Regions from separate parts of the Homo sapiens genome. Here all the other regions are linked to region 4. Evidence: fine-mapped expression QTL. A gene starts in region 4. Each other region holds a variant in brackets. All regions are shown on one strand. Distances are from middle to middle. Region 1 overlaps KDM7A (lysine demethylase 7A). Region 2 overlaps LOC107986854 (a long non-coding RNA gene). Region 3 has its middle 48 kb from the start of KDM7A-DT. Region 4 holds the start of KDM7A-DT (KDM7A divergent transcript).

What was found. PIP is the estimated chance that this variant, and not a neighbour inherited with it, causes the effect.
Region 1: its variant is fine-mapped to the expression of KDM7A-DT in whole blood (INTERVAL, PIP above 0.99).
Region 2: its variant is fine-mapped to the expression of KDM7A-DT in whole blood (INTERVAL, PIP above 0.99).
Region 3: its variant is fine-mapped to the expression of KDM7A-DT in whole blood (INTERVAL, PIP above 0.99).

What each region holds. Positions count from the first base shown.
Region 1 is chr7:140,144,799-140,152,904 of GRCh38, reverse strand. All of the region lies in intron 1 of KDM7A (lysine demethylase 7A), which reads left to right. Among named protein-coding and RNA genes, the nearest start is that of KDM7A, 28 kb to the left of the region's middle. The variant G/T (reference allele first, on the strand shown) is at 4,261.
Region 2 is chr7:140,233,354-140,241,459 of GRCh38, reverse strand. All of the region lies in intron 1 of LOC107986854 (a long non-coding RNA gene), which reads right to left. Among named protein-coding and RNA genes, the nearest start is that of KDM7A-DT, 60 kb to the right of the region's middle. The variant T/C (reference allele first, on the strand shown) is at 4,023.
Region 3 is chr7:140,220,894-140,228,999 of GRCh38, reverse strand. No RefSeq gene overlaps it. Among named protein-coding and RNA genes, the nearest start is that of KDM7A-DT, 48 kb to the right of the region's middle. The variant G/T (reference allele first, on the strand shown) is at 4,983.
Region 4 is chr7:140,173,375-140,181,480 of GRCh38, reverse strand. KDM7A-DT (KDM7A divergent transcript) reads right to left here and starts at 4,220. Exons shown (of 1, transcript NR_024451.1): 1 at 1,841-4,220. It overlaps KDM7A (lysine demethylase 7A), which reads left to right and starts at 4,498. Exons shown (of 20, transcript NM_030647.2): 1 at 4,498-4,737. The coding sequence starts at 4,544. RefSeq lists silencers at 4,090-4,519, 4,560-4,659, 5,300-5,479, 5,490-5,769 and an enhancer at 3,942-4,865.

The DNA.
Region 1 (8,106 bases), 29 kb after region 4:
CTGGTGACAGAGCGAGACCCCGTCTCAAAAAAAAGGAATTACAAAATGGACTTTGAGGAACCTATAATGACAAATTATCTTTTGAAGGGATCCAACATGTGAATAGGTTAAAAATCCTTCTTACACTTTATGTACTTTACATATTGCCCTGACTTGTATGTTTCGAAATAGAATGGTCCAGTGCTTGCTGTTGACCTTTCCTGGCAACTCAGCGTCACCTATTTTGCTATTGATGGATACTTCTGATTTGTAATTGTGTTGGATTTCTTTTTTTTTTTTTTGAAACGGAGTCTCACTCTCGCCCAGGCTGGAGTGCAGTGGGATGATCTCAGCTCACACTGTAACCTCCGCCTCCCGGGATCAAGTGATTCTCACGCCTCAGCCTCCCAAGTAGCTGGAATTAAAAGTGTGTCCCACCACGGCCAGCTAACTTTTGTATTTTTAGTAGAGTTGGGTTTTGCCTTGTCGCCCAGGCTGGTCTTGAACTGCTGGCCTCAAGCAATCCATCCTCCTTGGCCTCCCAGAGTGCTAGGATTCCAGGTGTGGGCCACCACTTCTGGCCATGTATTAAAATTCTTTGAGGTCTCTGGGTCATATATAAATTTCCACGTAGGATGTTGTTACCAGTTATGTCAAGATTTTTGTGGTTCAGACCCCTACTGTAACTCGTCTTTCATCAAGAATGAAAAAGCATACTAAGGATATTAAGTTCTCCTTAGAATGTTGCCTTAGTTTCTGTTCCAGCAGAGAGGCCTTTAATATGAATGCTTTCTCTTGGCTTGGCTTGGTTTGGAATGTGTTTATTCCCCTTAGATGCAGGCACTGAAGACTATTTATGAGATGAGAAAGGTTAGTAGGAAAACTAGATCTACTTGATTTGCCTTAGTTGACTCTTGTCCATTGTAGTTGATTCATCACTAAGTGTCCTAGATATATGTTTTTGCTATTATCTTTTATCCCAAGGTATGATCTTTTATTCCTGTATATATTCAATCTTCTGTAGGTTTCATTAGGCCCTAGAAAATATAGCTTTCCCTTCTGTACTTGCAATGGGAAATAAAACTGTCTGCTGGATTGGAGAGTTTCAGATGCTTATTCATTCATCTTTTAAAGATCCTATTTATTTCATTTATAATCCATTTGTCTTCTTCTTTTACTGACATTCCAAATGTCAGATTAAGATAGGGACATTTAGGAACTACATGAAAGGAAAAGTAAATGGGCATAATATATACATTTGTGATGAATGAAGACCTTTTTTCCTGTACAAGAGGATTATAGTTGCCTGAACCTAAATAATCAGGAATACTGTGTCCTTTTTCATTGAAAAAGGTATGGACATTTCAGAATAAATTCTTGAAAGAAAAAAATAATCAGTTCTGTACTTTCCCCCTCACATTCATTTTCTATCCCTTTATATTTGCAAAATTTATATTTAAACGGGCTCCAAGATGGTAGCCCAAGCGAATGTCTCCCTGATGTTCTTGGCATTCCTGCTTTGTGTCAATCAGTAAATATTGTGTGAGAATCCACTATGTAATCAGCTTTAGGTAGATCTGTGGGCAATGGGAAATTCTGAATTAAATATTACCCATGTCTTTAAGGAGCTTAAAGTCCAACGAAGCTTTCATAGAAAGTCACTTCCTATGAAAATTTGGTGTCGCACTAGCCATGATGCTAGAGTTTTAGATCAATAGTTCCTCAGTGCCATTTCTCTGCTGAGATTGCTGCAAAAGAATCACCTGGGGAACTTGTTAAGAACAGAGGTTATTGTGGCCGGGCACGGTGGCTCACGCCTGTAATCCCAGCACTTTGGGAGGCCGAGGTGGGTGTATCACCTGAGGTCAAGAGTTCGAAACCAGCCTGGCCAACATGGTGAAACCCCATCTGTACTAAAAATACAAAAAATTAGCTGGGTGTGGTGGCTCATGCCTGTAATCCTTAGCTACTCAGGAGGCTGAGGCAGGAGAATTGCTTGAACCTGGGAGGCGGAGGTTGCATTGAGCTGAGATTGTGCCATTGCACTCCAGCCTGGGCAACAAGAGTGGAACTCGTCTCAAAAAAAAAAAAAAAAAAAGAACAGAGATTATTGGGCCACACTCATTAACTTTCCCTGTAGAGCAAAGGTGGGGCTCAGGAATGTGTTTTTCTTTTTAAAAATAAACAATGTACACTGCTGATTTCAGAAGGTATAGAGAAGGTTCTATGGTGAAAAGCAATTCTCCTCTTCTCCATTCTATATCCATTCAGTTTTCTTTTCCCAGAGGCAACTGCTGTTACCAATTTCTTACATGCCCTTCCAGACATATACCTTGCATTTACAAACATAGGGATGAGGGGATCGCATACAAACTGTTACGCACCTGGCTTTTGTTGCTTTACAGCAAGCGTATCTTGGAGATCTTTCCATATTCCTACTTACAGAGCTGCATCATTCTTTTGAAAGGCTGCCGTGTAGAAGCTTATAGAAGCTTGTAGGGGATTCTAATGCATAGCCAGGTTTGGGAGCCACAGATAGACTGAGTGTTAAAGGGATTTAGAAAGTTTTTAGTGTGTTAATTCCTTATGTCTTGCATTTCATGAGGAACTGGACTCAGTAAACATTTCATTGTACTTCTAGGTACTAACAAGTTTTTGTATAATGTTTCTTCTTGTAGAATTCATCAGTCAAAAATAGTGACAGTAGTAGGGTGTATATATTTCTTTATTGATGAGACCCTGTGTGGTGGTCAAAGCTGCTAGAAACAGGAAGGTTTTCCCATTTTCCATCTCTGGGCTCAAGGTGCTTAGTGCTGTTTCACCTTTCCTTAGTGTTAAGGGAGGTGGGAATGGATAGAGAAGAAGACAGAAAGCAGGTAGTAAATTACACCATAAAACTTGCTCTGCCAAAGGAATCATTTTTCTCTACGCGACTTTCACTCTAATACCTATATTTAAGAGAGGCATATAAATATTCACATGTGTTGTAGAACTTCACATACATACTGTTATGTATATACACACTTCAGATATATATTACAGATAGCATACTTCTTGCCTTTGTTAACTTAAAAACATTGCCAAGCAAACCTTTATGAAATTGATACTATTTATCATCATGGCAAGTTTTTTCTTCCCTAAGATGATTTACAAAGTTCTTACCAAATTCTCACATCATATTCATTTTGGGATGATATTTATTTGCTGTATCACAGTTTATAAATAAAAGAATAGTCTTTATCTCCACAAAAATAGCAGATATACTGGGCACTGTTTGTATCCTAATTTCTTTAGTCTGTGTAGACATTCCTCATACCCAGCCAGGTAGGCAGAAAGTAGGCTGAGGAATAAGAGAGTATTAACTTGAGAATTTCACTGTCCTTTTCACCACAGGACAGTGAAAAGTAAATATAGTTAGCTTCTTGAATATTTCAGAAATGTAAAGCACCTCCTCCTTCTTTAGAACATTCTAATAAAAATTATTACCTTCATGAAATAATGATTTGTGCTTATTTGTAAGGATGCATTCACCATTTGCATTGCCAGTTACTCTGTGTCCAAGATGTCAGGCAGTAAAGAGCAAAATAACAAGCATTTATGTACTTGAAGCAAATAATGTATCACCATACAAATCATATTGATGTGCATATTTCACATATTCATTGTGGGACAGATTTAATTAGAAGCTTGTCAACAGGATTTTTAGCTTTTTGGGGAGTATGTTTTGTACCACTGAGTGCACATCTTGGCTCTTCAACCTAATTTTCCTCTCATGTTGTTTGATCAGTTCCTTTTTATACTGTCTTTCTCCCTTCACCCTTATTATCATAGATTCTTTTAATCAGCTGGTTGGAAATAACTCTGGAAGCCCTGGGACAGTTGGAAGCATGAGCCCTGCTGTTGGAGGTAGGAAAAGTGAACCATAAGTGAACCTTAAGAGATGATTGTGAACCAAAGGAATTTGGTTCAGAGTATGCATTTACTTCAGACCCCTTAAGCATATAGTATGCCACTAAACAGCTTTAATGTGTCAATTATATAATCTTCACAAAAGTGGAAACATACCATATTCAATTTATGAAGAAACCATTTAATTTTGTGAAAACAGTTTTATGTCAGCAAGAAAATAATAGAAGTTGGGTTTTTCTGAGCCACAAATTTAATCATACATTACCAGTTTGATTTTTCACTGGAAATAATTCATACAAATTATAAATTTTTACCTTAGCTGATATCTGGTAATAAAGTGATCTGTCTCAGGGTTAAAACATTGTATAAAAC[G/T]ATTAACAATTTAAAAGTGAAAATGCCTATTGGCATCCTAGTATTTTTAGTAAGAATGTCAACTTATTAAGCCAATTAATAAGCCTTATTTTTACTGGCTAGCAACGTAAGATTTTTGGACAACAAAACCATTGTTCTACAGTTTCATTCTAAGCATTTTATGTATATTAATTTTCTTAAAAATCCTTTGAGGGGGTTACTGTTACTATTTCCCATCTTTACAGATGAGACCAAAAAACAAAAAACAAAACAAAACAAAACAAAAAACAGGTAAAGTAAGTTACCCGAAGTCATACAGCTTACTAAGCGGGGTAGCTGGGATTCTAACACAGGCAGACTGACTCGAGAGAGAGAGATTTTTCTCAACTCCACCATCTAAAATTAATTAAAAATAGAAAACAAATTCTCTCTTTTTTTTTTTTTTCTTGAAGCATAGCCATTTGAGTGCCTGGTGTGTGCTCTGAAGAGACCTTATTGAAGAAAAAAATACTAAGCCCAATCATAAAAGCCTAGTTCCTATTTGGGCTCAAACCTCGTAGCTAATACGCTGTTGATTAGGGCAGTGTTGGCTGACTGGAACCTGGTAGAGACATGATAATAATATTAATAGCTGCTGTTTATGACTTAGTATGTTTACTGTGCCATTGCTTACTATAGGCTTAGTCCCATGCTTTACATACTGACATACATTGTCCTGCTTAATCTCAGGGGAACGCCTGCTCCTCAGGCAGATTGAGAAACCTGCTCCAAGTCAAAACAAGTAGAGCTGGAAATCAAATCAAGTCTTTCTAATTCTACAATCTATGCATCCCATTGAAGCCAGTTGATATGTGTTTATCCGGTGTCATGGAGGTAGTAGACTGAGGATACCTTGCCTCTCCTATAGCTGTCTCTAGACCTAAACTGACCCCAGAATCAAGATAGGAAAGGAAACATGCAGAGCAAGCTGTCAGCTATCCTCTGTATTCCCGGAGTTAATTTACCTCAAAGGCCACTCCCCATCCTCCTTTGTTAGTGTGGGACTTTAGGGGTACACAATGACTCAGTCCTCTGATTATGTCACATGTCACAGTGAAGAAAATGAGTAGTTGGGTGCTTTGGATGAGAAGGTGAATTTCTGATACACAGGTGAAAACTTGAAGCAAAATTTCCGATATATAAATCTCATTACCACAGCCTTCTACTGTCTAAGGAAAGATGAAAGTTGTACTTTACATGTTGAAAGAGCTTTCCGTTTTTACCAGCTGTTAAGAATTTTAAGAAAATTCTTTAAAAAATTCAAACCGAATAGAATTTTAAAAAATTTTGCCACAATATATTAGTTTTCAAGTAAGTTTGCAGCACAGTTAATAGTCAACAAAAATTTACTGTGATCATCTTGTACTTGGTATTGAGAGAGAAATCTTAAAGAGCTCAGTTCAGGGAATAGGATATAAAAATTGCTCAGTATTAAACAATGTTAGGCCATAAGTCAGTGGAAATGTGTTTTTTTTTTTCCTACCCTTTTGGTAGGAAATGTGTATCAGTAAAATGTTGAAGGACTTTCTGTGGTGTGATCAAGTAAAGTATCATCAAGGAGGAGGAATTTGGGGCTTTGAAGACTAGGTAGTGTAAGATCATTCAGTGAAGAATGGGGAGAGTATCTGAAGCAAGAGGAATATCTAATGAAGTCCACGGACAGTAAGATCTGAAAGAATTTGGCCACCCACTCTTCTAACACCAAGAGTAGAGAATATAAATGAGAGTGTTATCCGAGAGGAAAAAAGAGAACGTTTGGCTGATCCTAGGGAATTTCGGTTAGTCATTAATTCAATTCAGTTCTCATCAAGTGTCAGAAAAAAATGCCAGCTAAGCAACAATTTCAGAAGATTAAGACAATGGAAAGTGCTAAAGTTGTCACTGCCCCACTCACCAAATGGCAGTGAGGCTGTTCTATAGATGGAAGCTATTCAGCAAAGGTCAGATTGTCACCCTGTAGGAAAACACCTCCCTTGTGCCCTCACACACAAAGTGGTCTAATAAGCTAAACATTTTGCTTTTAGGAAAAAGTGTCACAGTCTATATATGAAGGAAAGTTTTACAAGAGAAGTGAGTGGAAGAGACTAAAGAAGGTTATGTGCCAGGTTTGAAAGTGATCCTTAGAAAATTTGCTTTCAGAGTTGTGCTCTTTGTGTGTCCTACTGCATTTCCTCTTAACATATCTGTTATAGCTATCATGATTCTAGCAATTTTTTAGTAGGGAGGCAGTGAGTGAAGGATGGAGTGGGTGATAAAGAGAGTAGGGAGAAGTTATGCCTCCCTCTGAGAGAGAAACGGAAGTGTAGGCAGTAGTTCCTTTTGGTTCCTTTCAAAGACCTGAGATAATTCTTGGTTTAGGAATGTTAACTTTTTGTGTTTAATTTTATTTTTTAAAATTGTATTTTGTATGGTTAATTTAAATGGACTGTTTTTCAGATGTACTAGTTTACCAGATTTCATGTTTTTATTGATATATCAAATTTACTGTTGTGTTGTGTTGAATTTCAAAATAAATGGAGCTATGAATGTTTTACCAGTTGATTAGAACTGGCCCAAACCTGAAGCCTTCACTGACATTTCATAAAACAGATTATATGGGGTGAGGTGGGATGACAAGTAGACACTAGAGAGAGGAACTCATACATCATTGAAGATTAATAGTCATGTTCAGCCCAAGGTGTTCTTAACTAATTGAAATGTCCCTTTCTCCCCTTTTTTCCCTAACCCTCATGGGAGTCATTCTGATTTATGTATCTTAGATGTCATGGAGAGTTTATGATATGCTGGTTTAGGTTTTTCAGGACACATCTAAACATTTTTTTTCTCTAATTCTTTTGGTGTCACAGTCACTTCTTAGGAGTGAGGAATGTGGCCATGGTCAAGGTGAGACAAGACAAACTAGGGGTTTCTATAGAAAAAGTGCCAACTTGGCATCTGTTAACATTGAGTTTCTGTTTTGGTGGGAGTATAGTACCTATTTCTTTTGACACTTAATGAACCTTGCATTTAAAATCAGGGAAGTTTGGTTTTGAACTTGTTTTATTGAATGCAGAGATAGCTCTCATGCATCTTTTCACTTATCTGCAGTGATCTTTTTGTTGCCCTTTAGCCACACACTGTTTCCACACTTGGATCTTATCACTGTTATAGATGATGCTACCTCGGAAATGTCAGATTCTGAACATTCTACTCTTTGGGCATAATCTCGCCTCCTTATAGGTCAGTTGCTCAAGGCCTTCCACGGACTCAGTGCTGGGAGCCATTAAGACCCCTCAGATCATCTCACCATTTTCTCACTACCTTCCGTCTTCACATCTTTTTTGACCACTTACATTTCACGGGTCATCCTTTAATTCCCTTGTAAATATCAGGAACTCCTTTTCTGGTCTTTACCTACAAAAACCCCAACTCTGGATGAATCCAATTTCCTGCTCTGGGTCTGCACCACATGGGTGAACATTGTTGAAAAAAAATCACATAAATACATAGGAATGGTTTTGTATTAGGCTGTTTAAATGGTTTTGTAGTAGGCTGTTTTTGCATCATTATAAAGAAATACCTGAGGCTGAGTCACTTATAGAGAAGAGGTTTAATTGACTCATGGTTCTATGGCTGTACAGGAAGCGTGGTGCCAGCATCTGCTCCTGGTGAGGCCTCAGGAAGCTTTCAATCATGGCAGAAGGCGAAGGGGGAGTAGGTGCTCTCATGGTGAGAAGAGGTACAAGGGAGTGGGAGGGAGGTGCTATACATTTTTAAACCAGATCTCATGAGAACTCACTGACCATCCCTAGGACAGCACAAGACATTCCTGAGGGATCTGCCCCTATG
Region 2 (8,106 bases), 60 kb before region 4:
AAAAAAAAAAAATTCAAAAGATGTGAACTTCCAAAATGGAGACTGCACACATGCACACATCTACATACATGCACACACACATGCATGCACACCATACACGTACATACATGTGCACCCACAGGCGCACACATACCATACACATGTGCACACATGCCACATGCATGTACACACGAACCATGTACATGCACACATACCAAACACACACGTGCACATACAAGCCCTCATCTAGGCTGAGATTTAAAAGCCCTGCAGTTGGCTGAGCGCGGTGGCTCACGCCTGTAATCCCAGCACTTTGGGAGGCCAAGGTGGGCGGATCTCCTGAGATCGGGAGTTTGAGATCAGACTGACCAACACGGTGAGGGTCAGCCCATCCAGAGCGCAATGGTTATTAGCCTAGGTGTAACCGAAACCCTGTCTCTACTAGTAGACAGGTTTAGTAGAAACCCTGTCTCTACTAAAAATACAAAATTAGCTGGGCATGGTGGCGGGTGCCTGTAATCCCAGCCACTTGGGAGGCTGAGGCAGGAGCATTGCTTGAACCCGGGAGGTGGAGGCTGCAGTGAGCCGAGATCACACCATTGCACTCCAGCCTGGGCAACAAGAGGGAAACTCTGTCTCTAAATAAATAAATTAATTAAATAAATAAAAATAAAAGCCCTGCGCTGACTCCATTCCTCAGTAGTGATGATTCCCCAAAACACTACAGTTCACCCTCCATAAAAGGGGTTGTCCAAGCTTGGAGCTCTCTGGGTCTGGGGTTTCCCCTCAGTAAAGTGAGGAATGTGGACAAGGAAACTTCTAGGACCTCTTCCTGTGCTCCCACATCCTCTGGCCCTAAGGGCTGTTTTCAGCTCCCCACCCCCATATCCCAAAGGATCAAAGGAATGGAAACTTAAGGAATTGGACCTTAAGGCTGTGGTGTCTGGGCTGGAGTGGACGGTGCTTTGCCACACACCTCTGGCATATCATCCTACAGCAGTGTTTCTCTTTTAAAAGAAAAAATTATTGCGGTGGCTCAGGCCTGTCATCCCAGCATTTTAGTACAGCGAGGCAGGTGGATCACCTGAGGTCAGGCATTCAAGACCAGCCTGGCCAACATGGTGAAACCCCATCCCTACTAAAAATACAAAAATCAGCCGGGTGTGGTGGTGGGCGCCTGTAATCCCAGCTACTTGGGAGGCTGAGGCAGGAGAATTGCTTGAACCCGGGAGGCAGAGGTTGCAGTGAGCTGAAGATCATGCCATTGCACTCCAGCCTGGGCAACAGAGCGAGACTCCGTCTCAAAAAAAAAAAAATTATTATGGACCCCAAGCTGACGAAATCTTTAATATTACCCAAATATATGTGCATATTAAGACCTTGGTATGCAAAGTTTAACAATACAACACCTCGTATTGTTAGGTAGTCTATCATCAGAAAAGTCAAGCAGAAAGGAAGAGAGAAGTCAGGGTGTCACTCTGGGCCCCCAACTTCAGGAGTGTTTCCATCAAGGGCTGCATTTCCCCCCTTGACAAACCCACCATAGCTCTGGCTTTGCTGGGTGATCCCTGGGTGCAGGGAAGCCCGACCCCTCCTTCTGTCCCCATTCATAGAATCCTGGACTGGCTAGGGGCCTAGAGAGATCACTAAGCACTGCTGAAATGCAGAAGACCAACTTCTAGACACAGGCACCCCGCCCCCTCCTTCTCTCCCTCCAGCCTAGGGGTGGCAGTCACTTACTGCTGTTGTAAACCTCTGGGCTGCCTCACCCTCTACTTTTTGGATCTTTGGTTTATTTGTCCTGGGTCCTAGGAAGGAGGTGAGGCAGCACTTCCTAAGGACGGGGAGTGCAGATGGCATAGGCAAGATGCCCGCAGAGGCTGATCCAGGCATGTGCTCAGCACAGCAACTGTAAGAGGAGAGCAGGGCTGGGCCAAGGGAGAAGGTGAAATGTGATGCACTTGCCACCAAAGCCCGGCCCTCCATCCCATGACGAGTTACAAAGCCCTTCGGAGTTGTCCTGAGTGGAGGCAAGGGGCTGGGTTTTTGCACCCCACTCCCCATATCTCACCCCTACATGGTTCGGTTGAATTCAGGCTGCCCCGCAAGGAAGGAGCCACCCTTGGGCCAGGCAGCCCCCTTCAGGCAGGGCTATTCCTGGGAACAGACTGGCGGTGAGCTGTCAGCAGTTGTATCCCAAAGAAGAACCTGGGCAGAGGCTGCAGAGTCGGCCACAGCATCAAAGCCCAGCTCTGCTTACTACCTGCGTGACCTAGACCCAATTCCTCATCCTTGTTTAGCATGCAGTTCAGTTTCCCCATCTGTAAAACAGGGAGGCTGTGAAGATCAAATGAGACCATGTTCCCGTAGGGGACAAGAAGCCCGCCCCTGGCTGGCTTCCCTCTAGGGAGCTGCTGCCAATCCCTTTGGCCAGGATCCAGGACTCTGCTTCAGCCACCTGTATAAGGGGGCGGGGACCCTGTGTGATGAGGTCTGTGCCAAGGTGTGGCCTTCCCTCCCACATCCTACTCTCAGGGGGTGGATGGATCTTGCTCTTCTCACTGGCTCCTCCAGCTCTGGGGACAGAACAAGGACGGCGAACCAAGGTCCTCTTGGAGCCTGTCCTTCTGGCCTCCCTCATCCTCCCCACATGAGCACTGGCAGGTTGGGCCCAAGCATGGCCAGGGAAGGGAGAACCTCTGGATCCTGGAGTTCCGAGCCTCAGCTGTGCCATGCAGCCCAGAGCCCTGCCCCGAGTGGAGTGTCAGGCTCTGTGCCATTTGCCTTTATCCTCTGTGTGTGCCAATCCCCAGGAACCCCACAGGAAGGAAGGGGTGGAAGAGCTAGGGCAGAATTCTGGCATTCCTGGGTCCCCTAAATCCCACCTGCACTCTGAATGGTAGAAAAGATGGGAAGATATAAATAGAAAGCAGTGGGGGTGTGGGGGAAGGTCAGCAGCACCCCAGACTGCTTCAGGGCCCCTGGGGACACAAGGAAACCTGATGTGAGTTGGAAAAGGTCCCTCCTCCGGGTGGACGCACACCCATGATGTGCAGCTTAGCTCACAGATGGCGCCTTTGTGCAAACTAGAAAAAGCCCTCAGCCCTCCCTGTGTGGTTGGGGTGCAGCGCCCAACCTGAATGAAGTCTCCACGGGATGTCACAGGTCCCTTGCACTGCCAGTTTTCTCAGCACACACGAAATTGAAGGTATAGCCTTGGGTTCTGCACATTTTGTGTGGCTTATGTGCCAACTGGGACAATCTGGTTATATGCCACAGAGCCCATCTTCCCAGACGTCAAACATCTGTCCACACCTTACAGCCTTTGCTGCTGCTCTCTGCGATGACAGTCATAGAATCCTGGACTGGCCAGAGGCCTAGAGAGATCACTAAGCACCACTGAAAGGCAGGAGACCAACTTCTAGACACAGGCACCCCGGCCTGGCAGCCTTTTTACCGTGTGTGTCCAGCCAGGCTCCCTGCTGCTCTGAGCCTATGCCTGGTAACTCATGTTTTCATGGACGTGGACAACAGCACCCTGCCCATAAGATGTGTCGCTGCAGGGTGGTGTGGGTACGGCAACGATCAGAGCTGGGCGACCTCAGTCTGTGTTTAGCTAGATTTGTTGTATCCACCCAGTATTGATCCTTATGGCTTTTCTTGAAAAAGTGGATATGGCCACAATGGGCCTGCACTCCTTCCTGGTACCACATGGCTGGAGGGGAGTTGTGTCCTCTCTGGTAGCACCATAGGAGTGGCTATAACCCCAGTCTAATGGAGAAATAGTCCATTATGTACTCCAGAGGCTTCCGGCCTTCGTTTGAGTCCTATATCATTTATTGCCTGTTAGACTTTGAAAGAGCTACTGCTCTGTGCCTCAGTTTCCCCATTTGTCAAACAGGATGATGAAATAATAGCACCTACCTTACAGGATTGCTATAAACATTAAATAAATGCATATAATAGCACGTAGTACATAATCATAATCACTAAATGTCAGCTCCTATAATGACAACAGGCGAGGTCCCCATGGATAGTGTAGA[T/C]ATTTAGGTAAAACATCCACAAACATCATTTCCTTGTTTTGATGACCCTCGAATTCCCAGCAATAGATGGTAGCTGGCCTACAGAAAACTGAGTTGGGAAAGCCAAGCATTCCTGTACGAGGCCCCTACCCCGTCCCCCAGTAATAAGGCAAACTTCCAGATTGCCAGGGGTTGTGGGGGCCGCCTTGGCTCCTCGTCTTGCCCAGCTCAGAACTGTCTCTGAGGCGGGCATGCAGGGACACACTATGGACAACCAGTCATGCTCCTCGTCAGCAACTTCAAAGAACATTGCCCATATCCCAAGGCCTCTTCGTTCCTCTTCATAAGTCATTAGGGGTCTGTCAACAGCTAAGTACCCCAAGACTTTTTATTTCCAGCTTGACTCCTGCTTGGGATAATGAGTTCCATGACCCTACCGCCCACCAAGCGAAGGAACATTTTCTTTGATTATTCCTAAATATAACTCTCTCAAGCTTTAAGCAGAGCACCCCCTCCCCGGTTCTCTTTCAGGATTTAGTGAATGAGTTCAAGAGCACCCTAACCATCCATGATTAAACAGATGTTCTTCCTTCTTAGCCTTTATCTTCCCAAATGGAAGAACCCTTAACACATGACTTTGCGTTTTTACGGCAACTTCACTATTTCCTTGACGATTTGGTTGCTTCTTTTTTGAGTTTCTCATGGTCTTTCTTCAAGTGTAGTAAGCACACAGGACAGAAATCCCTCTCCAACCACAATCCCTCTCCATCTGACTAACTTTGTATATTTTTAGTAGAGATGAGGTCTTGCTATGCTGTCCAGGCTGGTCTCTCTTATGCCACATTCTACTCTGCTTGGATGAATTTCCAAGCACAAAATGAGAATTTCAGTTTAATATATGCAAATCACAGTCATTGTGTTGAAAACAACTGGAAAGAGAAGGGACTGGGAGTTGGTGAGAGAAAAGGGTAAAAGCTGTAGGCAGAGTGCTATCAGAAACATTTTTCAGAGAGGTGTGGGAACAATAAAAGCAGGTGAGGTCTTAGAACTCCAACTCTGCACTCTATCCCAGAGCCAGCACACGCAACTGGGCAGGTATCCCACCCAAAAACACCCTCCAAGAGGGAAGGCAGGGGCTGAAATTCAGCCCTCACCCACTCACTGTGCTCCTAGGTGCTGGGCTACAGCAGCCAGCAGGAGTAACCTTTTTTTCTGATTTGCACAAAGGTACTGTGTGGACCAGCAGCAGCCCTGTCCGTTCCTGCGTCGGTCACTATGGGGGCAGCTGTGTCCTACAGACAGAGAAACCCAGGTCAGAGCTAGGCACTGGGTCCTGATATGCTCTAGAATAAAGTTTTCATAGTCATTCATCCAGTGAATATTTATTGGGCATCTACCATGTGCCTGGCACTGTATTTTTGTTTTTGTTTTTTTTGAGACAGGATCTTGCTCTGTCATCCAGGCTGGAGTGCAGTGGCATGATCACGGCCCACTGCAGCCTCAATCTCATAGAATCAAGTGATCCTCCCACCTCAGCCTCCTGAGTAGCTTGGACTGCAGGCACACACCACCACACCTTTTATATTTTTAGTAGAGATGAGGTCTTGCTACGTTGCCCAGGCTGGTCTCGAACTCCTGAGCTCAAGTGATTCTCCTGCCTAGGCCTCCCAAAGTGCCAACACTGTTGTAGGTGTGGAGAAGACAGTGGTGGATAAGACAGACCTGGTTCCCGCTCTCAAAGAGCTTTGATTATAGTCAGGGGAAACAAGTTAACAAGGTCAATGTAGACATCACAAGTATCATAACGATCCAGATCAGTGGTTGGCAAACTATGATCTTTAGGCCAATCTAGCCCTTGGCCTGTTTTTGTAAGCCCCATGAGTTAAGAATAGTTTTTATATTTTTAAAAGGGTTGTTAAACAAATTCAACAAAACAACCCTTAGGAGGCACATGAAGCCTCATTATCGACTAGTCCCTTACAGAAAAAGTTTGCTGAGCCCTGGTGTAGGTAGTGACTTGCAATGGTAGGGTTATCTAGCAGACATTGCGGGTTGTCAACTTGGTTGGATTATCTAGCAGACACTGCTGGTCGTCAACCGGTTGGATTATCTAGCAGAGACTGCTGGTTGTCAACTGGTTGGATTATCTAGCAGAGACTGCTGGTTGTCAACTGCCTGGATTATCTAGTAGACACTGCTGGTTGTCAACTTCACAGAACCCATCCATATCTCCCAAATATATGGCAGCCTCGAGATTTGTATAGGATGGGGCCTTAGCTGCTTAAGCCTAATCAGGGTTCTTTTAGCAGTGACTGGGTGCTGCTCACCAGCACATTTCAGGGATGCACCATTGAGCACGTGAGATTCCGCTGGGCTAAATGATTGGTTAGGTGAAATCCAGTGTTTTTTTTGAGCATGGGAGGCAAGAAACTCTCTTCCTGGATGGGGTGGGATGTGCATGTGGGGCCAGGGATTGCTGCAGCCATTTTGCTCATGGCTGGGAGGTCAGCCTGAGGATTCAGTGACCCATGGAGGGAGTGCCCAGAGAATCACAGAAAAAAGGATCCAGGTCCCCACCATACCCTGGCTGCAGCGTGATTTTCTTTTGGACGTTTTAGTTCCCAAGCCAATAAACTCCATTCTGTGTTTACACCAGCTGGGGTTTCTTGTTTATTTGTTTTGAGACAGAGTTTCACTCTTTTTGCCCAGGCTGGAGTGCAATGGTGTGATCTTGGCTCACGGCAGCCTCCACCTCCTGGGTTCAAGCGATTCTCCTGCCTCAGCCTTCCGAGTAGCTGGGATTACAGGCACGTGCCACCACGCCCAGCTAATTTTGTATTTTTAGTAGAGACGGGGTTTCACCATGTTGGCTAGGCTGGTCTCAAACTCCTGACCTCAGGTGATCCACCTGCCTTGGCCTCCCAAAGTGCTGGGATTACAGGCATGAGCCCACTGCATCTGGCCTGTATTGTTTAATTTTTTTTTTTTTTTTTTTTTTTTGGGACGGAGTCTCGTTCTGTCGCCCAGGCGGGAATGCTGTGGCGCGATCTCCGCTCACTGCAAGCTCCGCCTTCCGGGTTCAGGCCATTCTCCTGCCTCAGCCTCCCGAGTAGCTGGGACTACAGGCGCCCGCCACTGCGCCCGGCTAATTTTTTGTATTTTTAGTAGAGACGGGGTTTCACCGTGGTCTCGATCTCCTGACCTCGTGATCCGCCCGCCTCGGCCTCCCAAAGTGCTGGGATTACAGGCGTGAGCCACCGCGCCCGGCCGTATTGTTTAATTTTTAAACTGACTTTTACTTACATAGAGCAGTAAAGTACACAAAACTTAAGGACACAGTCTGATGAATTTCAACACCACACACACAAACATATACCTCTATCATCCAGATCAAGAATGTTCCCAGCCTCCACAAGCCAAATATGTAATTAAAAATGTCCTACTAGGCATATTAACGCAATAAAAGTAGAAAGCTGGGGCGTGGTGGCTCACGCCTATAGTCCCAGCTATTAAGGAGGGTGAGGTGGGAGGACTGCTTGAGGCCAGGAGTTTGAGGCCACCCTGGGCAACATAATGAGACCCCCACCTCTAAAACAAAATTAGCCAGGGGACGGTGGGGTGTGCCTGTAGTCCTAACTGTTCAGGAGCCTGAGGTGGGAAGATTACTGGAGCCCAGGAATTCCTGGCTGTAGTGAGCTATGATTGTGTCACTGTACTTCAGCCTGGGAGACAGTGAGATGAAGAAAGAAAAGAAAGAAAAGAGAAGAGAAGGGAAGAGAAGGAAAGAGAAAGAAAGGAGGGAGGGAGGGAAGGAAGGAAGGAGAGAAAAAGCTGAAATTAATTGTAATAATCTATTTGACTTAACCCAATAGATCTAAAATACTTTAATACATAATCAATGTTGAAAGTATTAATGATTACATTTTTTTCCTTACTGAGTCTTTGAAGTCCAATGTTTGTTTGACACATACAACACATCTCAATTTGGACTAGCCAGACTTCAAGTGCTCAACGGCCCCATGTGGCTAGTGGCTAATGTACTGGACAGCTCAGGTCTAGAAAGCAAGGGCTGATAAATGAAAAGGAAGCAAATAGCATCCATTGA
Region 3 (8,106 bases), 48 kb before region 4:
TCACACAGGCTGAAGTGCAATGGCGTGATCTTGGCTCACTGCAACCTCCGCCTCCCGGGTTCAAGTGATTCTCCTGCCTCAGCCTCCTGAGTAGCTGGGATTACAGGCGCACGCCACCATGCCCGGCTAATTTTTATATTTTTAGTAGAGACGGGGTTTCACCATGTTAGTCAGGCTGGTCTCGAACTCCTGACCTCGTGATCCGTCCACCTCAGCCTCCCAAAGTGCTGGGATTACAGGCGTGAGCCATTGTGCCTGGCTTTTTTTTTTTTTTTTTTTTTTTTTTTTTGTATTTTTTAGTAGATACAGGGTTTCGCCGTGTTGGCCAGGCTGGTCTCTAACTCCTGACCTCAGGTGATCCCTACATCTTGGCCTCCCAAATTGCTGAGATTGCAGGCGTAAGCCACCGCGCCTGGCCTCTTGTCACTTTTTATTACAAATAAGAAGCTTAAACGTTCTCTATATTGCTGTGGCAAGTACTACAAGAGTCTTAGGCAGCAGATCGTGAAGAACTGTTTGAGAAATGTTTTAGGGTTTTGCTTTTCTCTGATTAGAACCATCTCCAAACGGTGTTGGAACTGGAGTTCCTGAGTAAGATGCTTTCAGACAAAATATACAATGTCTTTCTCTAGAGATCCACTCCTAGGCTTTTTGTTCCTTTCTTTCCCACTGTAGAACATTGCAAAAACAAGCTGCTGAGCCCTCAGCTGGGTGCTTGGGTGTCCCTGAGTTTAAAATGGAATGGAATATAGGTTTCTGTTTTTGCTTCCGTTGTTATGGCATGGGTAACGTAACTTGACTTTGTCTTTAAAAATTTCACAAAAGAAATCAACATTATTTACTAAATCACTTTTTAAACGTGTTTTAAAAGTGCTGCTTTTGGGTTGAAGGGTGTGCTCCCGAAGACCACGCTGAGTTAAGAGGCTAATAGGAATCGTGTGAGTGAGGCAGAGTGGGATGAGGGCCGTTCCAGAGACAGATGTGCCCTGGGAGACCAGGAGGAAAGCAGGCAGGTTGAGCTGTCCTGTTGGTTGTTAGCAGGACAGAACCAGGAGGATGCGGAAGCATTGGTAGCTGAGATGCACGGCACAGACCCAATGGGGTCCTCTCTCTTTCTTTTGTTTTTTGAGACAGAGTCTCACTCCGTCACCCAGGCTGGAGTGGAATAGCGTGATCTCGGCCACTGCAACGTCTGCCTGCCGGGTTCAAGCGATGCTGCTGCCTCAGCCTCCCAAGTAGCTGGGATTACAGGCACCTGCCACCATGCTGGTTAATTTTTTTTGTATTTTTAGTAGAGATGGGGTTTCACCATGTTGGCCAAGCTGGTCTCGAACTCCTGACCTCAGGTGATCCACCACCTCGGCCTCCCAAAGTGCTGGGATTACAGGTGTGAGCCACCATGGCTAGCTTTTTTTTTTTTTTTTTTTAATAGAGACAGGGTCTTCCTGTGTTGCCCAGGCTGGTCTTGAACTCCTGGGCTCAAGGGATCCTTCCGACTTGACCTCCCAAAGAGTTAGGATTACAGGTGTGAGCCACCACGCCCAGCCCAGCGGGGGCCTCTCTTTTGAGTCAAAGGCGGTTTGGAGGTCTAGCACAGCCCTGCTTTGCTCTGGACATGATTCAATGAAAGAAGATAAAAAGTAACACCTGGTAATAGTAAAATAGTAACAAATGGTATTTATTAAATACCTACTGTGTTCTAGGCACTGTGCTAGGAGATTCACATGCTTTATGTCATGTAAGCCTATGATGTGGGTTACTATTATTAGTCCCACTTTACAGGTAGGGAAACAGCCACAGGGAGGTTAAGTTGTCCATTACCCAACTAGGAAGTGGCCCCATGAGCAGAGGACTCAAGCTTCTAGTGTACTCAGCCACTGGAGGATGATCCTTTTGTGCTGAGATTCAGTTTACGAGTTCTATTATGGGGGAAGTTGGGGGCTTCCTGGTCTCAATCTATCTAAGGCCAGCTTGTCCAGCCCATGGGCTGTCTGCGGCCCAGGACAGCTTTGAATGTGGCCCAACACAAATTTGTTAACTTTCTTTAAATGTCATGAGACTTTTTTGTGTGATTTTATTTATTTATTTTAGTTCATCAGCTATTGTTAATATATTTTATGTGTGGTCCAAGACAATTCTTCTTTTTCCAGTATGGCCCAGGGAAGCCAAAAGATCGGACACCCCTGATCTAAGAAGAAGGAGGAAAGGACTGGCTGGATCAATGGGAGAGGGAGAAGAGATAAGGCTCAATTAGTGAGCAGGGATCTGTGCAAAGGAATCAGGACATAGGCACAGCAGCACCACAGGGTGACAGGTGTTAATGTGGGGGCTGAGGGGAGGGAGCAAGAGTACCTTTCAGTGGGTGTGTGTTCAGGGAGAAATGAAGAGAGTTGGGGCTGTTGCAGAGTTGAATTGGGAGCTCTGGGAGCAAGTGTACCAGTCAGTATTATAGGAAGGCAGCCATGTTAAGACACAGGACCTGCAGGGTGGCCAATTTGTTTTAAAGTATATGACAATAACACTCCACAGTTTTAACAGTTTGTTGGGCTAAATTGTGTTCCTCCTACTGCTACTGCCCCCCGCATTCATATGCTGAAGTCCTTACCCCCAGTACCTCAGAATGTGACCTTATTTGGAAATATGGTCATTGCACATGTAATTAGTTAAGATGAGTTCATACTGGAGTAGGGTGGTCCCTGATCCATTAGGCCAGGTGCAGTGGCTCCTGCCTATAATCCTAGAACTTTGGGAGGCTGGGGTAGGAGGATCGATTGGGCCTAGGAGTTTGAGACCAGCCTGGGCAACATAGTGAGACACTATCTCTACAGAGAATACAAAATTTTTAACAAACTAGCCAGGTGCAGTGTCATATGCCTGTGGCCCCAGCTTAACTCAGGAGGCTGAGGTAGGAGGATTGCTTGAGCCAGGGAGGTCAAGGCTACAGTGAGCTATGATTGCACCACTATACCCCAGCCTGGGTAACAGAATGAGACCCCATCTCAAAAATAAAAATAAAAACTAAAGAAGGAAATTTGGGCACAGATATGCACACAGGGAGAATGGCATGTGAAGATGAAGGCAGAGATCAGGGTGCTTCTTCTACAAGCCAAGGAACCCCATAGATTGCTGGCAACCACCAGCAGCTCAGGGAGATGCCTGGAACAGATTCTCACTCACAGCCCTCAGAGGGAACCCATCCTGCTGACATCCGGATCTCGGCCGTCCAGCCTCCAGAACTGTGAGACAATGCTTTACTGTTGTTTAAGCTGCCTAGTCTGTAGTACTTTGTTACTTTGCTCTAGCAAAGTAATACACATGGCAACGTATCTGATGACAGCTCTAGCTGTGATAGAGCCCTGAGGTTTTTGAAACCTGCCTTTGTAGAGGCTGAGAAAATCTGTTTTCTTTCATTTTCCTTTTCTTTTTTTTTTTTTTTTGGTTTCTTTTTTTGAGACAGGGTCTTACTCTGTTGCAAAGACTGGAGTGCAGCAGCGTGATCATGACTTATTGCTGCCTCTACCTCCCAGGTTTCTCAGTAGCTGGGGCTGCAGACACACACCACCTGCCTGGCTAATTTTTTAAATTTTTTTTAGAGATGAGGTCTCACTATGTTGTCCAGGCTGGTCTTGAACTCTTGGGCTCAAGTTATCTGCCCACCTTGGTCTCCCAAATTGTTGGGATTACAGGTGTGAGCCACCATGCCTGGTCAGGACTTGTTTTATATAAAATTATCTCTAACAGAATGCTACATGTACATAGCTATAAAAAGCAAAGTAGAATAAATACATAAAAAGTATAATGAAAAATTACAATTGCGCTTAGCCTCTTGTTCCCCAAGGCTGTCTTCCTGAAGGCCGGCACTGCCAACTCTGTAGCCATTTTTCTTGTATTTTCCACCATTTTTCTAAACAATATGCTTACATTACTATTTCTTTTCTTTCCTTTTTTTTTTTTTTTTTTTTTGAGATGGAGTCTCACTCTGTTGCCCAGACTGGAGTACAGTGGGGTGACCTCAGCTCACTGCAGCCTCTGCCTCCCAGGTTCAAGCAATTCTCCTGCCTCAGCCTCCCAAGTAGCTGGGATCACAAGTGTGCGCCACTATACTTAGCTAATTTTTGTATTTTTAGTAGAGATGGGGTTCCACCATGTTGGCCAGGCTGGTCTCGAACTCCTGACCTCAGGTGATCTGCTTGCCTCAGCCTCCCAAAGTGCTGGAATTACAGGTGTGCTGGAATTACAGGTGTGAGCCACCACGTCCAGCCACATTACTGTTTCTTGATTTTCGACTTTGCACACTACTTGTTAACTTCCAATCATGGTAGCGGAGGAAACGCTCTCCTTCCTATACCCCCTTCTGTATCCTTGTATTCCAGTACTTTATGAAATAAATGACAACTGTTCACATTATTAGGAGGAGGTATGTAGTGTTAGGAGGGGGCATGGCTCACCTCTGAGCCATGTAGTGTTCTAGGACAACACTCTGTGATTAAACAACCCTTTTCTCCTTCTGGACTTAATGGCAGTTTCTTTTTTGCATTTGTCTGATTTTCTCTGAACCTATGTGTTCCCCCATTGCCCTAGCACCTCTGCCACACTGCAATCAACAGTATTTTTTGACTCTGAATGCTTTATTTTTTTTTCCCTAGGTGGTCCCTCTGGCCTCCTCCTCCAACGTGGACAGAGGTGCCTTAGGCTGCAGCGTGGCCCAGCTCCTGAGAGGGAGGAGGAGGTGTCTTTTGAAAGTGGCCAGCAGTTTTCTGGGTTTGGAGGTGGATGTTTCAGTTCACTGTGGGGGTGAAGTCCTTTGGTTTCATGAAGGCCTCCGGGACAGGCAGCTGTGCTCTCTTGTTGTTCCCCTCTGAGGGGCTTCACAGTTCTGGCTTGGGCGTGTTAATCAGGCATTCAGGCTGAGGCAGTCCTGAGTCCAGGGGAGATGTTGTCTGAAGGTGTGAACGGCTGAGCTCACTCCTGTGGAAACTGAT[G/T]TTTTTGTCAGTGGTTGTTTTTTTGGCAGGGTGTGGGAGTTGTTGCTGAAAGTTGCTTGCAGGAGATAACGGAGTGGCTGAGGGTGGAAGGTGCATTTTCTCCATCCGTGCACAGAATCAGCACTGCTGGGTCACGCAGGGTGTAGGGATCTAGAGCACCAACGGAGCCCCGGACCTGGAGCCTGGCAGCCCCATGGGCACTGTGTCTTAGAGGTAGTGGCCCCAAGGCTCGTATTGGTGGACCTCAAGCCACAGAAGACAGGCCAGAGGAAGGATACAATGATGACTGGGACTGATTGGTTCAACAGATGTCGGGGACCCTTTTGAGGACTCCCTGAAAGACCCAGGGAATACTTCTGCAGGGCTGGGGCTGAGGGCCTGCGCTCATCAGGGGCCTCAGAATCGTTGTGACATGGGGTATCCGTGCAAAGGGATCTCACGTCTCCCCAGACTGCTGGACACTGGGTGTATGAGCATATTCCCTTCAGAATGATTCACAGCGATAGGCAGGGTATTTTTACCCCCATTGACAGCCAAAGAGTCTGAATCTCAAAGAGGCTTCAGTCCTTAAGTGGCAGAAGTGGAATGAGACCCCAGGTCAGGTGCTTTCCCACTTCCACAGAAGATAGAAGTCACGTTGCTAGAAAGTAACAGGGGAAGTAACGGTCCCATTGGACCATTTAGGGTCCTAGGAATGAAATATTTATTATGTTCAGTTCTGGGAATCGCGTTTTAAGAGAAGCAAGAACTTACTTCCTACAGGGAAATCAGGTTCGTGAAAGAGACCGGGGGTGCCTTTTCTGGCTTTTGTAACATCAGAGGGTCCTCCCCAGTCAGTGTTAGCAGCCCTGGGAAGCAGAGTTCTCTAGGGCTTCCAGACTCGACCCCAGTGTTGTCACCGGGCACCATGGTATGCTCAGTGCCATGGGCAAGCGTGGCTGTCATCTGCCCAGGGCCGTCGCCTGTGTAGCTAACGTCCTCTGTAGACAAGCACCCCTCTGTTGCAGCCTCATAAGCAAGGTGATTGTAGATGTCATGCCTGACTAGTTCACCCTTCTCAGGAAGTGAACTTCCTTTTTACTCAGTTTCACAAATATGGGGGTTCATGCAGTCTCCCCTCCCATCCCAGCCAGCTGCCCTGACAGTGGGATAAGGCGCTGACAAGCGGCCGTGTTCCCTCTGCGAACAGGGACAATGTCCCCATGAGTGCTCCCTTCCCAGCTCTGGGGCTAGAGTGTGAAAGGCAGGGTAGCGCTTTAGTGACTGGGGGGCTGTTGATCTCAGACACCAGCTGCTGTGATTCCTAGGACACTTCTTATCAGTGGGACACGAATGGGGGACTCCCACGTTCTGGTCTCTCCAGTCAGGTTGAATTTGTTGTTTTGTTTTTATTTTTGTTTTGAGACAGAGTCTGGCTCTGTCGCCCAGGCTGGAGAGCAGTGGCGTGATCTTGGCTCACTGTAACCTCTGCCTCCCAGATTCAAGCGAGTCTCCTGCCTCAGCCTTCTGAATAGCCGGGATCACAGGCACACGCCGCCACACCTGGCTAATTTTTGTATTTTTAATAGAGACGGGGTTTCACCATGTTGGCCAGGCTGGTCTTGAACTCCTGACCTCAGGTGATCCGCCTGCCTCGGCCTCCCAAAGTGCTGGGATTACAGGCGTGAGCCATTGCGCCCAGCCGAATTTGTTGTTTTTTAACAGGAAAATCCTTACTGAAGTTTCAAGATTCCCATTCTAATGATTTTTAAATCTCTATTGAATTCAATGAATTCAAATCTCTCTCTCTTTTTTTTTTTTTTTTTTTTTTTTTTTTGTGAGACAGAGTCTCGCTCTGTCGCCCAGACTGGAGTGCAATGGCATGATCTTGGCTCACTGTAACCTCTGCCTCCTGGGTTCAAGCGATTCTCCTGCCTCAGCCTCCTGAGTAGCTGGGATTATTGGCACATGCCACTACGCCTGCCTAATTTTTGTATTTTTAGTAGACACAGGGTTTCACCATGTTGGTCAGGCTGGTTTCGAACTCCTGACCACACGATCCGCCCACCTCGGCCTTTCAAAGTGCTGGGATTACAGGCGTGAGCCACCATGCCCGGCCTCTAATCTGTTTATGTTTACAGATTTGTTTTTGCCTCACTCACAGCTACTATTTGTATTTTTACTGAGCTTCTTTGGACAAGGTTAAGGAGCTTCTTTTCCTGACTTCTGTTGATTTTTGGTGCTCCGTGTTTGGAGTTCATAATTACACAACCTCAGGGGTTTTCTGGGGTTAGGGGAAAACAGCAGCTTGAAGGCTCAGGAAGTGGCTGGAGTTCTGGAAATAGAGTCCAGAACATAGACTTAGAAAACCCTGATGAACCTGTGTGACCTGGTCCTCCAAGGACTGAGCAATGTTGCCTCTCCTGGCTCTGGAAACACAGCACACGGGGGCTTCCAGAGTGAGCAGGAAGTTGCTGGCCATACCTTCCCAAGCCCCAGAGATGCATTCAGGCTATTTGAGGATTGTCATTAAGGCTTAGAGAAAATTGTTGAAGCTATTCCTGATTTGTACCAGTTAGTTTAGATTCAGCTGCAACAATCACAACTTAAGCAAGATATATAAAATTGTTTCTCATGTACATAGTTGAGGTCTATTATGTCAGCGTCCCCATTATTCAGACTCTTTCCAGTTTTCTGACTGCATTCCCTAGGCTGTGTCTCATCCTTATGGTCCAAATTGACTGCTGGAGCTCCAGCCATCACATCTGACTTCTAGGCAGCAGGACAGAGGAAAAGGAGAAGAAAGGCCTATGTTCTTCCTAGAAGAACCATACTATATTTTTGCTTACATCTCTTTGGCTAGAATTTAAAATGGCCAGTCCAAATTGAAGAGAGGCTGGGAAATTTAGTCCTTTGGCAGCAAGCAGTGTTACTCAGAATAAATTTGGGGTTTGTTACTAAGTGGGAGAAGGCGCATTGGTATTGGGTTAGGTTAAGCAGCCAGCAGTCTATCAGAGAAAGCTGGATTTAGTAGCTGTGAAATAAACAGGTTATTGGGGTTTGCAGTTCACTTAGGCTCTCTTTGTAACCCTGGGCAGGTCATTTTACTTTCTTCAGCTTCAAAATTTTCATTAAAAAAAAAAAA
Region 4 (8,106 bases):
CTTATCAAACTTTCAATTTATGTATTTCTTTACACTGGTATAGCTTCCTATATTATTCAGTGGGTTATAATACATGATTTTTTTTAAATGTTGAAGTACAATTTGTCCCTGATTTGGCTGGTGTCCTTTAGACATGCCTCATTATTCTTTGAGCACGTCCTTATATTCTGGTACTACAAGAAGTTCCAGGCTCATCCCGTACCCTCTTCTCCAGTCCTGGAATCAACTATTTTGCCAAGAAGAAAAATGAAGTGGAGAATGGTATTTAGAAGCCAAGACCTGGGCTAGCTGTTCTCATTGTTTTGTGGTGTCACTACTCCCAGATCCTCTCAATGGACAGGGTATGTACATATACACCTATATCTATTTCTACAAATAGTGATAGATTGATACCTCCATTACTAGCCCACCACCAAAGTTTCCTCTTATTTGTAATTCTCTTCCTGAACATTGAGAAACCTGGCTCCCATTTTCCTTAACTCATTGCCAGTCACGTGTCGCATAATGACATTTCCGTCAATGATGGACTGCATATTATGATGGTGCCCCATAATATTATGATGTGATATTTTTACTCTCCCTTTTCTATATTTAGAAACACAATTTCTTACCATTGTGTTCTAAATCCCTATGGAATTCAGCACAGTAACATGCTATACAGGTGTATAGCCTAGGAGTGATGGGCTACATCATCTAGCCTAGGTGTGTAGTTAGCTATACCAAACACGGTTGTAAGTACACTCTATGGTGTTCACACAACGATGAAATTGCCTAACGATGCATTTCTCAGACTTACCTCTGTTGTTAAGCAACACGACTGTATTTTTTTTTTTTTTTTTTTTTTGAGATGGAGTCTTGCTCTGTAGCCCAGGCTGGAGTGCAGTGGCGCGATCTTGGCTCACTGCAATCTCTGCCTCCCGGGTTTGAGCGATTCTCCTGCTTCAGCCTCCCGAGTAGCTGGGAATACAGGTGCGTGCCACCACAACCAGCTAATTTTTTGTATTTTTAGAAGGGACAGGGTTTCACCATGTTAGCCAGGATGGTCTCAATCTCCTGACTTCATGATCCACCCGCCTGGGCCTCCCAAAGTGCTGGGATTACAGGCATGAGCCACCACGTCTGGCCAACACGACTGCGTTTGATCAGTTCTCTTGTACACAACTGTATCAGTTTGTTCTTTCGTTGCTATAAAGAAATATCTGGGCTGGGTGCGGTGGCTCACACCTGTAATCTCAACACTTTGGGAGGCTGAGGCAGGTGGATCACCTGAGGTCAGGAAATCGAGACCAGCCTGGCCACTACTAAAAATGCAAAAATTTGCTGGCTGTGGTGGTGCACGTCTGTAATCCCAGATACTTGGGAGGCTGAGGCAAAAGAATTCCTTGAACCCAGAGGGCGGAGGTTGCAGTGAGCCAAGATCATGCCACTATACTCCAGCCTGGGCAACAAAGTGAGACTGTGTCTCAAAAAAAAAAAAAAAAAAAAAAGAAAAATAAATAAAAATAAATAAATAAATAAATAAATAAATAAATATCTGAGGCATACAACTGTAATCCCAGCACTTTGGGAGGCTGAGGCAGGTGGATCACCTGAGGTCAGGAGTTCAAGACCAGCCTGAGTAACATGGTGAAACCCTTCTGTACTACAATTACAAAAATTAGCCGGGCATGGTGGCAGGTACCTGTAACCCCAGCTACTCAGGAGGCTGAGGCCTAAGAATTGCTTGAACCCGGGAGGTGGAGGTTGCAGTGAGCTGAGATCGCACCACTGCACTCCAGCCTGAGCGACAGACCCAGACTTCATCTCAAAAAAAAAAAAGAGAAAAATATCTGAGACTGTGTAATTTGTAAAGGAAAGAAGTTTAATTGGCTCATGGAAGGCAGGCTGTACAGGAAGCATGATGCTGGCATCTGCTCAGCTTCTGGGGAGGCCTCGGGAAACTTACAATCATGGCTGAAGACAAATTGCATCATATAGCCGGGGCAGGAGCAAAAGAGAGAGGGAGGAGGTGCCACATATTTTTCAATGACCAGATTTCTTAAGAACTCACTCATTACCACGGGGACAATACAAAGTGGATGGTACTAAACCATTCATAAGAAATCCACCCCCATGATCCAGTCACCTCCCACCAGTCCCCACCTCCAACATTGGGGATTACAATTCAACATGAGATTTGGGTGGGGACACAGATCCAAGTCATATGGATAACCAATCTCTCATTGTTGCTGCTGCCTCCTGCTCTGCTGGGCTTCCTTCTTCATACCCCTGCCTAGTCCCTCCATGTTAACATAGCAAGTCCAGGTGGCCCCCAGAGGACATCCCACAACAGGCTGCTTTGGTGCTCTTTAGCCAGACTCCAACAAGACAGCTTTGCATGCCTTCTCTTCACTGCTGTATTGTCTCGACAACACACACCTTCAACAAAGTACATTTAAAAATACATTGTCTTTTTGCTCCATGTAAAACCTCTGTGAGATAATTAAGGCATTACTAGCCATATTTTTTCTTTCAACAGATCATCAGTGATCTAGTTCAGGAGAAATGGAGTGACTGGCCCGAGGTCACAGATTATAGAAAGCAGGACCTGAGTGCATGGGTCTTTCCACTCCAGCAATATGTGATGCCTATGCCAAAATTACAGTACCTTTTTTTCTCCAGTAGAAATATGTTTCAAGCTTAATCAGTGTGTGGTCAACTAATTTCCAGCCTTTCCTTTTCCCGCTATATATATGCCAAACAGTGATGTGATAGAAAAACGAATAGTTGCAGAATTGAGACACTTAAAAACTTCAGTTACAGCTCTAATATATGAGACTTCAGTCAAGTTACTAGCTTTCCTCAACTATAAAAAGGAGATTAGGCAGGACTTGGTGGCTCACGCCTGTAATCCCAGCACTTTGAGAGGCCGAGGCGGGCGGATCACTTGAGGTCAGGAGTTCAAACAGCCTGGCCAACATGGTGAAACCCCGTCTCTATTAAAAATACAAAATTACCCGGGTGCGGTGGCGTGCGCCTGTAATCCCAGCTACTTGGGAGGCTGAGGCAGGAGGATCCCTCGAACCCGGGAGGTGGAAGTTGCAATGAGCCGAGATCACAGCACTGCACTGCACTCCAGCGCGGGCAACAAGAACGAAACTCCGTTTCAAAGAAAGAAAGGAAAGAAAGGAAAGGAAAGGAAAGGAAAGGGAGGGAGGGAAGGAAGGAAGGAAGGAAGGAAGGAAGGAAGGAAGGAAGGAAGGAAAGAAAGGAAAGAAAGAAAGAAATGGAGAATTAGATCAGCGACTCTTTGCCTGGGGGTGGGTGACAGAACAACACTTCTTCCTCCCCTAACAAAAATTACCTATGGAGCTGTGAGGGCTTTCCCCACTGATAGAAATGCCAGCAGAAATTCAGCTACAAATACTCAATCCAATAATCCTTAACATCACTTCCAATCCACAGTTATGATTCCAACGCAATCTTTTCTATACAGTATTTGTCAGCTGTTTTTATTCTTCAGTTTATCATCTTATATTTGGCTCTCAATTTCACCCATAAATTATTGATGGCTTATTATACGCCAAGTACCCTGCGCTCCGCTTTTTGTGGTATCCCTCTTCGGAGCGAGAAGTCACTTAGAATTTTACCCCATCTTCCCCACTTGGGAATCGGAAGGGTTCATAGCTAAGTTTTGTTATTTATAAGCACGCCGGCTCTTCTCTATCCCTCTCTCCACCAACCCCATTTCAAGGTTGGTCCCTCCCAGCGGACGACAGTGATGAATTCCTCTTGGGGACAGCCCTCCCGCAACTAACGGTGGCTCCATCGACGCTCTGGTCTCCTTGCTGCTCGCTGGGAATTCGGGTGGGACGTTTTCCAAAGTTTGGATTCCACGGCACATTCCTCCCTCGGAAAGGCACAACCGGCTCGGCGTGTCAGCTCAGCTGGACTCACGCCGGTGCGGGGCCGCAGCTCCGGTTCTCGCTGGGCGGCTGCGGAGGGCTGGGCGATTCTCTCAGCGTCGCGAGGCGACCCGGGCAGCAGCAAACTTCTCCGCTTCCCCTCTTCGGGACGCGGCACCTCTTCTGCCCTTGAGCACTCCGCAGGAACTTCCCCCGGCCTCGGCTCTCGCTCCGAAATAACCGAGCCAGCTCCTCGCACGCTCCCGCCGTCCTCCTCCGGCTGCGGCCGCGCGCCCGCCGCCACCGCCACCACCGCGCGTGTCCTCACGGGGCCTCAGCTCCCTCCGCCCCCGCAGCCGCCTGCGTGCCCTTCAACAGCTCCCTCCGCCCGGCCGTCGCGGAGAGGAGCGGGGAGCGCGCGCCGGCGCCAGAGACGTGCGCGAGACGCACGGCCCCGCGCCGAGCGCCGGAAGCAGCCGAGTCTGGGCCTCGCGCGTCGCGCGCGCCTCCTCCCCCTCCGCCAGCCGCCGCGGCCTCGCGCGCGCGCACTGAGGCGCCGCCGCCGCCGCGGCTGCTGCAGGAGGCGGCGCTGGCTGGCGGCTGCGCTCGCTCCAGTCGGCGAGCGGAGTAGCGAGCGAGCGTGTGTGTGTTTTTTAAAGATGGCCGGAGCGGCGGCGGCGGTGGCCGCGGGAGCAGCAGCTGGAGCCGCCGCGGCAGCCGTGTCGGTGGCGGCTCCCGGCCGGGCCTCGGCGCCTCCGCCGCCCCCGCCCGTGTACTGTGTGTGCCGGCAGCCGTACGACGTGAACCGCTTCATGATCGAGTGCGATATCTGCAAGGACTGGTTCCACGGCAGGTAAATAAACCCCCTCCAGCCCCGCAGCCGCCACCGCCGGCCACCGACCAACCGCCGCCGCCGCCGGCCGCCCGCGCCTCCCTCGGGCCGGGCCGCCGCGCCGCGCCCAGCTTTCAGGGGGCCCCGGTGCCTAGCCCCCCGGCCGGGCAGTGGGGCGCGCGGTGCCCCGGGTTCGCCGGGCGGGCTCCAGAGGGGAGCCGGTGGGCTCGCCTGGCCCGGGCGAAGAGTCGCCACAACAAACACGAACAAAGAGGGCCGGCGGATAAGTTGGCAGGGGGAGCCTGGGGCGAGGGGACGCGGCCGGGCGGGCGCGGCGGGGGCGTCGGGCGGAGCGCCGGCCGGGTCCGCAGCCCCTCGCCAGCCCGGGCCGCCGCCGCCCCGCCCCGCCCCGCCGCGCCCGGGGCTCCGGCCGGAGTCGCCGGCCGCCCCGCCGCTCTGCCCGGCCGGCCGACGCGCCTGCCTTCCTTCCGGGCGGCGATGGGGTCGCCCCGGCCCCGCGTCTCCTCCGCGCCGCGGGTCCCTGTCGCGCCCCCTTCCCCGTCTTTATCAAACTTCCTGGGCCAGTGGGACGGGGGCAGCGGCGGGCCGGAGAGGCGACCGCGCCAGCCAGCTCGGCGGGGCTCCGCGGAGTAAACAGAGCAACAGATGAGGCACTCGCTCTCGGGGACTTGAAAGGTGCCGGGGAAGTTGGGGCCGGGCCCCCGGCGGGCGGCAGGTTGACCCGGGTCGCGGTCCTGGGCCCCCGCACACACCCGGGTCGCCGGGACTGGGGCAGATGGAGTGGGTTGCGGCGGCCCGAAGGGAACGCTTCTCCGGACCCCCTGCGTTGCCCTCGCGCCGCGGCTTAAACTTTACAAAGAGTGCAGTTGCCATCGCTCGAAGCTGGCGACACCGGGACCGCCTGCGGCTGTGCCCGGGCGCCGGTGCCGGCGAACTTGAGTCGGCCGGGCGGACGCTGCGGGGCCGGCTGGCGGCGGCGGCGGACGCTGCCCTCTGATTCAGCCGCCGCCGCGCTCCGGGTTTGACGTTTGAGAGCTCGGGCCGCCTCCGCAGCCAGGCCGCCGACTCGTGTGTTTTGTAATCAAAGTGTGAGGCTAATAAAGGGCGGCGCCACAGCCTCTTGACTCCGGCGTGGGAGGGATTCACAGGCATTTAAACAAAGAAACTAGTTGGGGTTGGGCTCCCAAAGTCCTTATTTGGGTGTTGTGGCAAAGCCTGCGGTCACCTTTAGTTGAAGCCGGTTTCCCGGGCCCCGTTTGGTGTTGTCTCTTGGCGAGAGCACGCTCACGAGTAATAGCAGATATGGTGACTGTGATTGTAGGAAGTGTCTTTTGATTGACAGCAGGACATTTAAATACAGCCTCCGCTCCCCCCCTCCCCAATTTTACAGAAACACTACAAGACCAGGCCAGATGTCTTAGTCTCCCTCTACTGGTCCAGGGAGAGAAAACCATGTAAATCACAATGTTCTTTGCAGTGTTTAGTGCTAGGTGTAGTTAAGTTTTACTTAATTTTCAAGTACAGTTTTACTTAATCAGTTTTCAGGCTAGCCGATTCTCACAACAGAAAACAAGACACAGTAAATTATCACTTTAAAAGAAAGGCAGCGTCCTCGTTTCGTATAATCTTTAGCAGTCTTGTATATCCAATTCTATTTCCACATCCTGTTTCCATAACATATTCTACGCAACTAGAATAAAGATTATCCGAACATTTAGGTTCTATATAGAATAAAATCAGAATCCCTGGTGATTATGTAAATGCTTATTTTTTTTCAAAGAACTATTTTTTGAAATTTGAGGCGGTTTAAACTGCATAAAAATTTGTCTCGCCAGGCTTGGTGGCTCACGCCTGTAATCCCAGCACTTTGGGAGGCTGAGGCGGGTGGATCACGAGGTAAAGAGATCGAGACCATCCTGGCTAACATGGTGAAACCCCAACATGGTGAAACCCCGTCTCTACTAAAAATACAAAAATTAGCTGGGCGTGGTGGTGCATGTCTGTAACCCTAGCTACTTGGGAGGCTGAGGCAGGAGAATCTTTTGAACCCGGGAAGCGGAGGTTGCAGTGAGCCGAGATCGCGCCACTGCACTCCAGCCTGGCGACAGAGTGAGACTCCGTCTCAAAAAAAAAGAAAAAAGAAACTTGTCTCATTATGCAATGCGGATTTGATAGGCTACCAAATTTTAGACTAGAATTGTATTTATCTTAATTTAGGTCACTTAACACTATAACCATGAAAAGCCCCAGGTATTTGATGGAGAATTTTGTAATACATGTAAGTATACACTTGTAAATAGGGAAATAGGAAATACAGAGGGCTTACGGGAAGGAGGGAGAGCAAGGCCAAAACAAATATGCCCTCTCTGCTTTGACACATAAATTTGTGTAACTTTATATCTGTGGAAGTGAGTCTAAAATAGGTTTTTTTGAGCCCAGGGTCTTTTTGACCATCAATCCTTGAAACTTATGTGGTTCAGATGTCAAAAGTTAGAAAATTTAGCTATATTGTCCTGCCCTACAAAAGCAGTATCTTTTTATTAAGTTTAATTCTTTTTCTTTTTCTTTTTTTTTTTTTTGGAGACGGAGTCTCGCTCTGTCACCCAGGCTGGAGTGCAGTGGCGCCATCTCTGCTCACTGCAAACTCCGCCTCCCGGGTTCAAGTGATTCTTCTGCCTCAGCCTCCCGAGTAGCTGGGATTACAGGTGCCCGTCACCACGCCTGGCTAATTTTTGTATTTTTAGTAGGAACGGGATTTCACCATGTTGGCTACACTGGTTTCGAACTCTTGACCTCAGGTTATCCGCCCACCTCGGCCTCCCAAAGTGCTGGGATTACAGGTGTGAGCCACCCTGCCCGGCCTAGTAAGTTTAATTCTTAAGTATTGGTAATTTGGACTCTGTATGTTTTTCCCGTGGTATTTACTCTGATGTTTACTGTACCATAAAATGAGTGATCGTTTTTCGGAACACAGCAAAATGTTCCTTTATATTAACTATTAAACAAATATCATTTGCTTCCATGAGAATTGACCCCTAAAGGACTAAGATGTATCTTTACCATGCTTAGATTTCATTGGACCAGAGGTGGTCCATCTGTAGAGGAGCAAGGAGGAGTAGGAGGTTGGATACAGAGAATTGCCATTGCCTGGGTAATTTCTTGTTAACTTTATTTCTTTAAGTAGAAGGACTTTTTAAACTGAGGAATCAGTGCATTTTGATATATATAAATTTTAGTTTATTCTGCCTGGCGTTTCTGACATAAGGAAATCTGAAAAGTTGTTGCCCTAATTTCTTGTGACAGGGAAGGAAGACCTGTCCTTGATGCTTTTCTGTCAGGCTGCAGGGTGGATGGAACCAGCGTCTTCCA